Linked DNA regions of Homo sapiens: region 1 is linked to region 2. Evidence: fine-mapped expression QTL. Tissue or cell type: skeletal muscle. Region 2 holds a variant in brackets; the other region holds the start of a gene. All regions are shown on one strand. Distances are between the middles of the regions.

Region 1 (5,367 bases), 24 kb before region 2:
CTAACATGCAAATCTTGGCTTCTAAAACTAACCCTGAGATAATTTTATATAGCTAAACTCACACAGCCAGGAAGTGAGGGAAGGGAGAGGAGAATAGAGCCTATGGACTCCGGAGCCCCTTCCCCAGCACTCTGAGAGGTCTCCACCAAGCAGGAGATTTTGTTTTTTGTCTGGAGACAGAGTCTTACTCTATCGCCTAGGCTGGAGTATGGTAGCACAATCATGGGTCATGGCAGTCTCGGCTTCTTGTGGCTCAAATGATTCTCCCATCGCAGCATTTTGAGTAGGTGAACTACAGGCATGTGCCATGTGCCACCATGCCTGGCTAATTTTTTTTTTTTTTTTTGGTAGAGGCAGGGTCCCACTATGTTGCCCAGGCTGGTCTTAAACTGAGGTCATGTAAGCCTCCCACCTCAGCTTCCCAAAATGCTGGAATTACAAGCATGAGCCATAGTGCCTGGCCAAGATAAGATTTAATACAGCACTCTCGCTGGGTACTCAATGTTAGCCCTCATTGAGCAGGTGGTGGACAATCCCAGCCCTATCAGAGTAACAAGAAAGGAGATAAACTCTGTGAAAGCCTTCAGGGCAAGGCTGTTATCTGTAGCATCAATAACAATGGTAAATCCTGACCTGGCCTGAGCTCCTCCCAGGACCCACCAAACGCTCTCCATCCCATATCCAGCCGGGTCAAACACCCGAGGCATAATGCTGGGTGCCCTTTTGGGTGTCATTAAAGGAAGAGAAAAAATTAACTGTGAGGGTTTTAGAGACTTAAAACTCTAAAACTAAACTCTAAAACTCTAAATTTGCAGGGCAGAAGCTGCAAAATGACAGCAGGCCCAGCGCCGACGGGAAGCAAGTATGACTTTCCATGGGCCCACAAGCAGCTCTGAGGTCCTGAGCCTGGCTGGTCTGTGACTGTGGAACAGTAAGATTCAGGGTTCCAGGAGTGTGATGGCCAAGAATCCACACCACCCCTGCCCCAGGCAAAGGACTCAGCTTTCAGCTGCAAGAACTCCACAGAAGCCTATATAGGGTCTTGGAAGACAGCAGGGCGTCTGCCAACAGAGTCCCGTCTCTCTCTTCTCCTCCCCCTCACTCCTCTCTCCACTGCTTCACTGGACTTTGAAAAATATCATGGAAGGGGTCATTGGGTCTAGGGCCAAGAAAGGGGCTAAAAACCTCCATCCTGGGTAACTGTCATTAACACTAAGATCATGAAAGTCAAGATAAGCCCTCTTCTCCTTGATCCCCACCCCACCATGAGATTTGCAGGGCAAGTCTGGGAGGGAAAAGAAACGAGTCCTGATAAATGTAAATTGACAGGCACCCCTGTTCACAATCTGTTCTAGGTACAATTCCACATGGCTCCCCCAAGACAAAGATGTTCCCCTTTGATGGTGCTGTTGTCTTGGGGAGAGGCGCAGGCACATTCTGACTGGCCAGTTCTTGCTCCCTAAAATAGCCTGTGGACTATGCCCTCCTCGGGGTCGGGAGGCGGGACAAACAGCTCCTCTCCAGCCCACCCTCATGCTCCCACTCTGTTCTCCTCACTGACCTGGCCACAGGCTCTTCCACCCCAAAGGAACCCATAGTATCTCAGGAGCTCTGCCCTGAGCAGTCTCCTGCTAGGGAGGGCTGGGAAACAGGCCCTCACCGCCAGAGCATGCGACACAGCCTGTGAGATGGTGACAGTGGGTCCGGCTTTTTCGCTCAAGTTGACCAGGGCTTATGCTCCTGCAATGCCAGGTCAAAAGCACAGCCACCAAGTTCTCCTCCAAAGGCCCGACTCCTTTGGAACTCACTTCCTGGGGGGGTCAGAACAGAGTGTACCCCTACCCCGAGTCCTGGCACAGGGACACGGCCATATAACCTGGAGACTCTTCCTGCTACAGCCAGGAAGGCACCTCCTGCCACCAGGAGCCGGGGCTGGAGAGGGCTGGGCTGCCTGCCTGGCTCACACCAGGGGTGGTGTGGCTAGGAAGGAAGAGGGGAATCTCAGGCCTGTCTGGAGCACCTTGGGGATGGAGTCATAGGGGAGGGTCTAGACAGTGGCTATTCATTGCTTCTCCTTCCGGCGCTGCAGAAACTTCCTCCTCAGTCTGAGTTGGGCAGGGCCCACTCGCGTCCGCCTTCGAATCCCTTTCCTGCTGGTCAAAGGCAACCCCTCTGACTCTACCAGAGAGGGCCGGAAATCCAGCTGCCCACAACATATCCTGCCATGGCCTCCACAGAGCGCATGGAGCCCGGGGAGGCTGAACAGGAAAGGCAGAAGTGAGATCCCATCCCACCAGGACAGCAGATTCGGTGCCTTGCATGATGGCAGCTGACTGTGGTGGGTGCGTCATTTCAGGGGCCCACAATGGGCCTTTGGTGCCTCCCAGGAGCCCAAGGTGGCAGTGACTGCACACAGCCAGCTAAGAACGTGTCTGTCTGTGATGTGGTACCCACCAGGCAGGGATGTGGGGCTGAGGCACAGTCTCTGCTCCTTTGTGCAGGGGTGGGACTGCCTGATAGATGTGTTTTTCCCACTGCCCCCACTCTAGCCAACAGCCCGGAGAAGGGGAAGTTTGACGTCACTCATCCCCCACGGATGGCAGTAGCCAGAAGGCAGGGGCCCTGGGGCCACCAAAGGCAAAAGCCCACCAACAGACCCTTGGTTATGATGAGGGTCAAGTGGAGCACATCTTACCAGTGTGTCCCAGAGACCCACGCTCCTCCCAAGATAACACCCAGACTGAGAGCCCACTTCACCTACCCCAGCTTCTCTCAGGGACTCCAATCTGGGACTCTTGGGGTTGGGAGGCTGCATCCTCTGCTGTGGTGGGCCCAGGCTCGGGTCTCACAGGTGCTCCAGACCCATCCTCCTTCCCCCCAGAGCCAGGATGGGGATCCAAAAAGCCAGGAAAGCCAGGGACAGGAACAGGGAAGCCACCGGGAGGAGAAAGGAAAGACAGAGGGGCGGAGACCAGCAGCTGCTCTTTGAATGAAGAGAAAGCATTTCAGGCAGCCAAACAGAATGTCAGCAAACCTCAGAAGTAATTCACTCCCCCAAGCCCAGACTTATGGGGTTCCCACTGGTGCACCAGGCGCGGGCCAGGCCGACCCGGAACATTCAGTACAAATGCTGGGCTGCCAGCTCGTCCCTAAAATAAGACTCCAGCTGTTGGCCATGGAACTGCTTGGAAAGTAGAGCTCCCTGGGACAGGAAAGGAGCCCTGCAGGGCAGAGAAGCAAAGCTGGGGGAAGTGAGGCCTGCTCCCCTGTGGCAGAGGTTGGATGCGAGAGCCGTGTGACTGCTGCCAAGAGCTGCTGGCGTGCGGCCCCGGGGTAGCTGCAGGAAGGCACGCTGACGCTGGAGCCATCCTGCCATTCCCACAACAGTTTCTTCTGAAATCGACATCCTTCTTTTCCTGCACTTTGACCCCCACCTGATCTTGGCAAGGGTCTTTGGGCCACACAAGGCAGGCTAGTGTAGGGGTCCCTTTCCCCCTTCTTCAACATCCTGGCCCTTGAAGGAGTGAAGCTGGGGCCCCAGGAGCCACACTGCGGGGACCAGTCCCTGAGCAGGCAAGCAGGCTAATTCACATGGGCTGCAGAGGAAGGTGAGGGAGGCAAGGAGCAGGCCCAGATTCCTCAGCAGGGCTGAAAATATCCATTAGTGATGAACCAAGCTCACACTTCCGGGCGAGTATGAGTGCAGGGGTATTAAATGTCATGAGATGCTTTGAAACGAAAAAGAAGTTAACTTGAGACTTCTGCCTCTGTGTTGCCATCCATGTACAGAGGAAGTAAGACGCTAGCAGGTCCTCCAAGAGGGTATCCACCTGTACCTCATTCCTCCACCCCACACTATTGGGTGAATATGTAACAAGCGCACTTCTTGCTCTCATCAACGAAACAATGAATATTTGTGAGTCTTTCCTACAAGGCCAGCACTGTCCTAAGCACTTTCTCTGCATTTCCTTCTTTGAGCCTCATGGTAATCCTAAGAGGTAAGCACTGTTATTATCCTCGCTGTGCAGATGAAGAAACTGAGGCAGGGAGACGTGACATAGCTAGTCCCAGGCCAGGCAGCTGGTAATAGGGGTCTGGCTGGAGACTCTGTGTCGTCTGCCTTGCCCATGCTACCCCAGGTGGTGGCAGCTGCTCAGAGCCATCCACACAGTGCACACTTGCCAGTTCATTCTATGGAGCCCACACTTCTCCACGAGGAATGAAGAGGGATGCTGCAAGGAGGGGCAGGGGGAGGTCATAACTGGGATGATTGAGGCTTCAGAAAGTCCCTGGGCACATCCCAGCCTACCTGCTCCTCCTCTTCCAGGGTCAATGTGTGGTCTCGAACAGGTTGGCAAGAGCTCAGGACTTGGGGCTGGGGCTCCTCGCCTTTAAGATGGAGCAAGCTGGCTGTGACTTGTGTTGAATTCACTCCTACAGTGCAAGAATTCTTCCAGGACAAAACAAGAGCCTGCCCCTGGAGTCTGCATTTTAGCAGAGCAGGGAGTGCTGGATCACCAGGACACCATACAGAAGTAAGTCCTGCAGAGATGCAGTCTGGAACAAGGCTGTGAAGAGTCAGCAAGCCCAGTGGTGTCCAGAGTGGATGCCGGGTCTCAGGGGGACCCTGCCCAGAGGTCCTGGGGAGCTGAGTGGCAGACAGGGAGGTGGGAAGCGGAGCAGAGGAGCAGGTCTTGATCACAGAGCTCCAGGCCCTCTGAGGGGGTGGGTGAGTCACCTGAGGCTGGATTTCCACACACAGAGCTCGGCCAGTGAGGCACAGCCCACAGGAAGAGACACAAAGGGAAGCCCCACCTGGTGCACACGCTTGTATGGACAAGGCTGCTTATCCCACACCCCAGAGCCCCCCTGGTACCTGCCCGTCCATGGGCCATGGTTCTGGACTGACTTGGATTCATGATGCCCACCTAGTTCAGATTTAGAGGATGGCACGTCCTAACACCTTCACTGGCTGGGCCCAAAGGCATGAAGCCTATGTGGACAATAGGGAGGGGTGGGGTGCTTGGAAAACTGGAAGCTGTGGGCCCAGCAGAAGACAGGTTTGAAACACAGGTATCTGTTGTTAAACTTGTCTGGGATCTGAGTCCTGACCCCCAGCCCCTGGTGAAGCTTCCAGCTTTGTGGAAGATCAATTTGAACCCAGTTCAAACCACCTCTACTGAGATAACTGAAAAAGACTTGAGGCAGTGACAGGCCAGGGACAGGATGCATGCGGAGATGGACTTCTGGTGCAGATGATGGGCCTGGCCACAGAGAAGAGTCCTGCGAGGCTTCTGCTAACCTGGGAGGGGATGAGGCAAACACCTGCTCCAAATGAAAAGACATCCAGACACACAGTCCCAGACA
Region 2 (5,367 bases):
CTGGCACCACTCATAAACTTCCTGCTTCCCTCCTTCCAGGCACCTGGGGGTTGTGCTGCTTTGCTTTCTGATTAGGCACAACCCCAAGCCTAGCTTTGTCCAGTGATGTGGGAGAGGCAGGGACAGGTATGTGGGACTGAAGCCAAGTGCTCTGCCAAGAGCAAGCCAGCCCCATGCCTGACCTGTTCAGGGTCATGGTTCCACTCAAGTCCTCCTGCGTGCACACCAGCCAGGGCCAAGCAGAAGGAGGTGTCGCCCCAAGTTCCCACAGAGAAAGGAAGGTTCACATTCTCAGATGTGTGGTGGCTCAGAGAGCCAAGAGGATGGAGCTGATGTATTCCTGGGGACCGGGGGACTGTCACCAGCCTTGGGCTGAGGGCTGAGGGCAGAAGATACGCACAGCAGAGCCGTGGGGCAGGGGTTCCTGGCAGGAGGTAAAGTGCAGAGGGGCAAGGCACCCCTGGGGACTCAGCCGAAAGCAGGAGTGAGAGGGAAGACACACCCCTACCTCCCTCCCCACAGCCCTCTCATCTCCCACCAACACCTCTCATTGGCCAAATCCAATGAGAAGCCAGCAGGCAGGGGCCCATGGCATGTCTTCCTGGGACACGCAGTCCTGGGCGCAGACAGGACACATAGAAGGCATGGGGGAAGAGGGACACATGTTGGAGAATGATGAGTGGAAATTGGACCTCTATGCTAGATTCCAGAGTTTAGAGCTCAGTGTATTAATTGATATTTTCATTATTGAAACTTAAATCATAGCATGAAATGATATTGTTATTTTTCCCACAGATAAGGGAAGAGTGGTGAGTTAACAGGGGAAGCCTGGACTTGATTTGAAAGCCCTTCCTCACAGGCACCAGGCCCACCCCCCACTCCACCCCACCCAGCTGATTTACTCCCTGGAGGTGAGTGAGGGTCCCCTGGCCCTGCTGAGAAGCTCCTCTTTGCAAAAAGAACTTCCACAACACGTCTACCCACCCTATGGTATAACAGATGTTCCCACCTTCCAGATGTTTCAGATGAAGTGGAGAATATCTGATGGGGTGGGGGCACAGGGAAATCGAGTCCCTGGGGGCTTACTTCCCAGGAAGCAGGCAGCTGAGACTGGGTGGAGGATGTGCCGAGACACAGCCTTGTCCCCATCAGCTCTGAGAAGAAGGTGGGGAGTGCAGGCCCAGTTACAAGAGGAGGCAGACACCACAGTGTGCAGGCAGCAGTGTTCTTGTGCGGAGCCTGGTACCGTCAGGTGCCAGTGGAGGGTCCAGGGGCTGATAATGTGCCCTCACTAAGTTGCTGAATTAACCCTTATTCATGAGTATCTCTGCCTTGGAATTCATCTCGGCAATTCCTATTGCCTCTAAAAACCCTCTAAAGGCTTTTCCTAGCAAAGAGCAGTAACTCTTCCCCAAAACTGCAATGGCATAGACGATAACATTTTGTACTTTGAAGTAATTTCTCCTTGAAATGAGTTATGTAAGCTAAATGAGCCTCACACCTGATTCAGGAAAATGAGTCACAGCAAATCTCCAAAGATGGCCCCGTGGCCACCCTCCCAGGATCCCTGCTCTCAGGTGGTCTTCTCCCCTGGGTAACCCAGACCAGTGGCTCCCACTCACCCACAAAACGCAGTGGGAGTGGAACATCCCTGTGCAGGACGCTCTGGAGAGAGACCCCGTGACAAGACCGTGTGGACAGGCCCCACGGGGAGGGAGCAGCAGGGATGTCTAGCTTCCTGGCGAAGACCAGCCTCACAACCCCACCCTGTGCCTTCCATGGCACTTCCTGAGCCTCTCAGCCAGTCCGGCTCCCACATGACCACCAGGCAGCCTTGGGCAGCCTCAGGTAGAGCAAGGGAATTGCCGAGCCCAGGCCAGCTGGTCACCGGAGCTGAGAAACATCCCAATATGTGTGTGGGGGTGATTTGTTATGCAGAGGGACACAGAGAGAAGTGCCGAATTCCCTCAAGAAGCTGAGCAATTCCTGTCCCGACCTTCAGGTCAACAGATACTGCCAGGTCACCCCAGGGCCCTACGCGTCTCAGACACATTGGGACTGTTAGAAGCCCACCCTCCCCCCACGGGCAGCCCACATCTAACACAGACCCCACTCCCTGGGCTACCATGCTCTCCACCGTGGGCCATCCTACTCCTGCTTAGGCTCTGAGAACCTCTTTCTCTCTCTCTCTCTCTCCTTCCACACACACACACACCTTCCCTCTCTCCCTCTCCATTCACCCACAGAAAAAGTGTACCCTTGGGTCCTTGAATCTCTCCTACTGCAAGAGTGTGAGCCCAGGCCCCTGAGCTGGGAAAAGCAAAGGCAACACAAGCAAGCCCAGCATCTGCTCTCCAAGCGTGGGCTCCCTGCAGACCCAGCCTTAGGACAGGACTGAGGGGGTGACCGGGAGCAAACCTAGAAGATGTCCCCAGGGCAGTGACTGTCCTCAATTCTGTGCA[A/T]GAGCTCCACCTGCCTGAGTTCTGCTTCACTTTTAAAGCTCTGCCCCAGTCCATCACCCCCACCTGGCCTGTCCCCCAGGACACTCAAGCCCCTAAACACTAAGCACAGTGTGTACATCTGTTTGTTCTGATATAACCAAATACCTGAGACTGGGTAATTTATTTAAAAAAATAGAAATTTTTTTGGAAGTTCTGGAGGCTGGAAATCCAAGATCAGGGCACCAGCAGGTTCAATGTCTGGTGAGGGCTGCTCTCTGCTTCCAAAATGGCACCTCTTTGCTGCATTTTCTGGGGCCAGGAACACTGCATCCTCACATGGCAAGAGGAATAGAGGGATGAAAAAGAACCAAACTCCCTCCATCAAGCTCTTTTATAGGGCACTAATCCTTTCACCAGGGCAGAGCCCTCATGCCCTAAACTCTTCCCATTAGGCCCACCTCCCAACACCATTACACTGGGGATTATATTTCCAACACATATATTTTAGAGGACATATTCAGACTATGGCACATGGCCTCATCTAGTGGGCTTCAGCAGCTGTCCTCTGAGCCTGCAGTGACCACTGAGAAGTGCCTATGATGATAGTCCCTTGGAGGACGCAGCTGGGGGTGTACCCCTGGGCTCCTAGTTTAATCCCTGTAACCCCTACCTGATATCATTTGGGCCTCATGCCACACTGTTGACCTCATATGGGCACTGCAGGAGTCTGGTGACCAGAGGAAGCCAGCAAGTTCTGCTCAGGCCTCACTTTAGCTGCCGGGGCCCCCTTGGGGAGCTCTGAAAGTGGAATGGCCCATTTGCCTTGGAATGGGCTTCCCAGTTGTGGGGTGGTCTGCTTCTCTATCAACATAATCAAGATCAAGGCCAGGGAACCCAGCATGGACAGGCAGCTCCAGATGGCTAAGCTCCTTCCCCAGCAGAGAATGCTGCCGCCGAGGGACCCCCAGCTCCTGCAGCCCCTCTGGGTGGGCAGTTGTTTCTCCTGAGTCTTCTCCAAGCTCTTGGAGAGACTGAGCATACCCAGGGGCCTAGGGGCCACATAGAAGGAGAACAGCTGCTTGCCCCTGCTCATGACGGTGAAAGCAGAAACTCACTCACCCTCCCCTGCATGGGGACTGTGGGCATCCACACAGCCTGGCAGGACCTCAAACCCTCAGTCAGCCCAAGTGGATCATTTGGTGACATGTGGGCCACCTACCAACTCCCTGGACTTTATCTTGGTCATTGTTTCGGCCTTGCAGGGCTTGAGTGATTTGCAGACATGTCAAGACACCATGGTTTTAACTGGTCTTATGATAGCTGAGCCTAACCTGCAGTTGCAGCCTCCTTCCTGGAATGTTAGCATCAAATTCTTGCTCAACGCGGGAGTTCCATGAATTGCTTTGCTGCCGTGAATCACTCTAGGGAAATTTAATCTTGCTGCAAAAGAGGATACTTTCTCCAGAGTGTAGCTGTTCCTTTCCTTTCAATTTTGCTTTTTACTGTTGTTTCACTGTTGTTCCTTAGAATTCTATTTGTCTGAACTTTGTCATAGTGAAAACGCAACACATTTTAATTATTCTCTTGAATTTTCCCACTTGCAGAAGATAGGCTGTAAATGAGTGACCCCAATCCACCATTGCAGGGTAGGGATAACGCAAGTGTCAAAAATCGGAATCAATTCTAATGACCATGTTTCATCACTGACAGGCATGTAAACCTCAAACCAAAGCAAACTCTGAAAGCTGAAAAATGAATCATGAAACTCAGTAGCAAATCCCACCTCCCCTGGAGGTGAAGTAAAACCACATCAATGGCTCGGTATGAGATCAAGATGGTCAGTGGTTATAGGACAAGAGACCCACTTTGAGGGGGGAAAATAAAAGCTTTGACATCCTTTTAACAAGTGTTCCCATAACTGAGTGACTTTGTTCGGTCAGCCTCAGCTTTCACACAGCAAGACACAAACTTTTCCTGGATCTCATTGATCTGCCTGTCCCACATCCAGAGGCTAGACAGACAGACAAACGCGTCAACTCCTCATAATGGGAAGCCACAAGCAACAATAACAAAATGAGAGATGCTTTAACCAAAAGACTGTAGTACAAGAAAATTAGGCGAGGCAGGTCTCACTTTCCCATCTGCTTCCTTCTCTGGAGAACCGTGAATTCCATAGCTATCCTGCTTGTGTTTGGCCCATCATCTAGGCATCGGATAGCAGCCCAGAGGGGATGCTAAAAGGCCTTTGTTTCAACTTTGGACCAAAAGGCCCTGGGTCAACAAAGCCCAGACCTGATGAGGAGACCTGGACCTCACTGCAACTATGGACTCACCTCTCTGAGCCCATTTCTTTGCCTGTGAAATGAAGAATAACTAAGCTTCCCTCCAACACTAAGAATCTGTGATTTGACAGCACTTGGGAAATTTCATATAAGGGAAAAGATTTGGGGATGAAAATCAGTGATTCAGTGGCCCAGTCAGTGGCCCTTGGGTCTTTTAATCCCCAGCTGCAGGTGAGCGATAGAGGGTTGCCAATGTTCTGTAGGAATGAGCGTGCTCCAATCAGAGCCAGAGACTGGACCACAGGCACAGGCCTGCCCACCAATCCCATGGTGACCTTGGAAGGAGCCCCCTGTCCCGACACTGCCACCTGCTCTGTATAGGCCACCTCCTTAAATGCTAAGGTGGAACCCAGCTCTGGTAGGGCCCAGGGCCCGCAGGCTGACTCCTCGGCTACCTCCATGCCCAGCCCCCACATCTCCTCTCTAGGCAGACGCCCGTGCACTCCATGCATTCCACCTGCAAGCAGAGTCGCCGTTCAAGAAAACATGCAGTTCACGCAGCTGGACCAGCACGTCCAAGGCCCCGGGGTATGAAAGGGCATGATATGTCTGGAGAGAGGGAGAAGCCCTGTGGGACACAGGGA

Evidence for each region. PIP is the estimated chance that this variant, and not a neighbour inherited with it, causes the effect.
Region 1: LINC03062 starts here. The variant in region 2 is the best candidate, but not a certain one, in a credible set for the expression of LINC03062 in skeletal muscle (GTEx, PIP 0.78).

Annotation. Positions count from the first base shown.
Region 1 is chr9:89,637,374-89,642,740 of GRCh38, reverse strand. LINC03062 (long intergenic non-protein coding RNA 3062) reads right to left here and starts at 2,958. Exons shown (of 6, transcript NR_024280.1): 1 at 2,762-2,958. RefSeq lists an enhancer at 2,646-3,215.
Region 2 is chr9:89,612,928-89,618,294 of GRCh38, reverse strand. No RefSeq gene overlaps it. Among named protein-coding and RNA genes, the nearest start is that of GADD45G, 11 kb to the right of the region's middle. RefSeq lists an enhancer at 3,329-3,870. The variant A/T (reference allele first, on the strand shown) is at 2,463.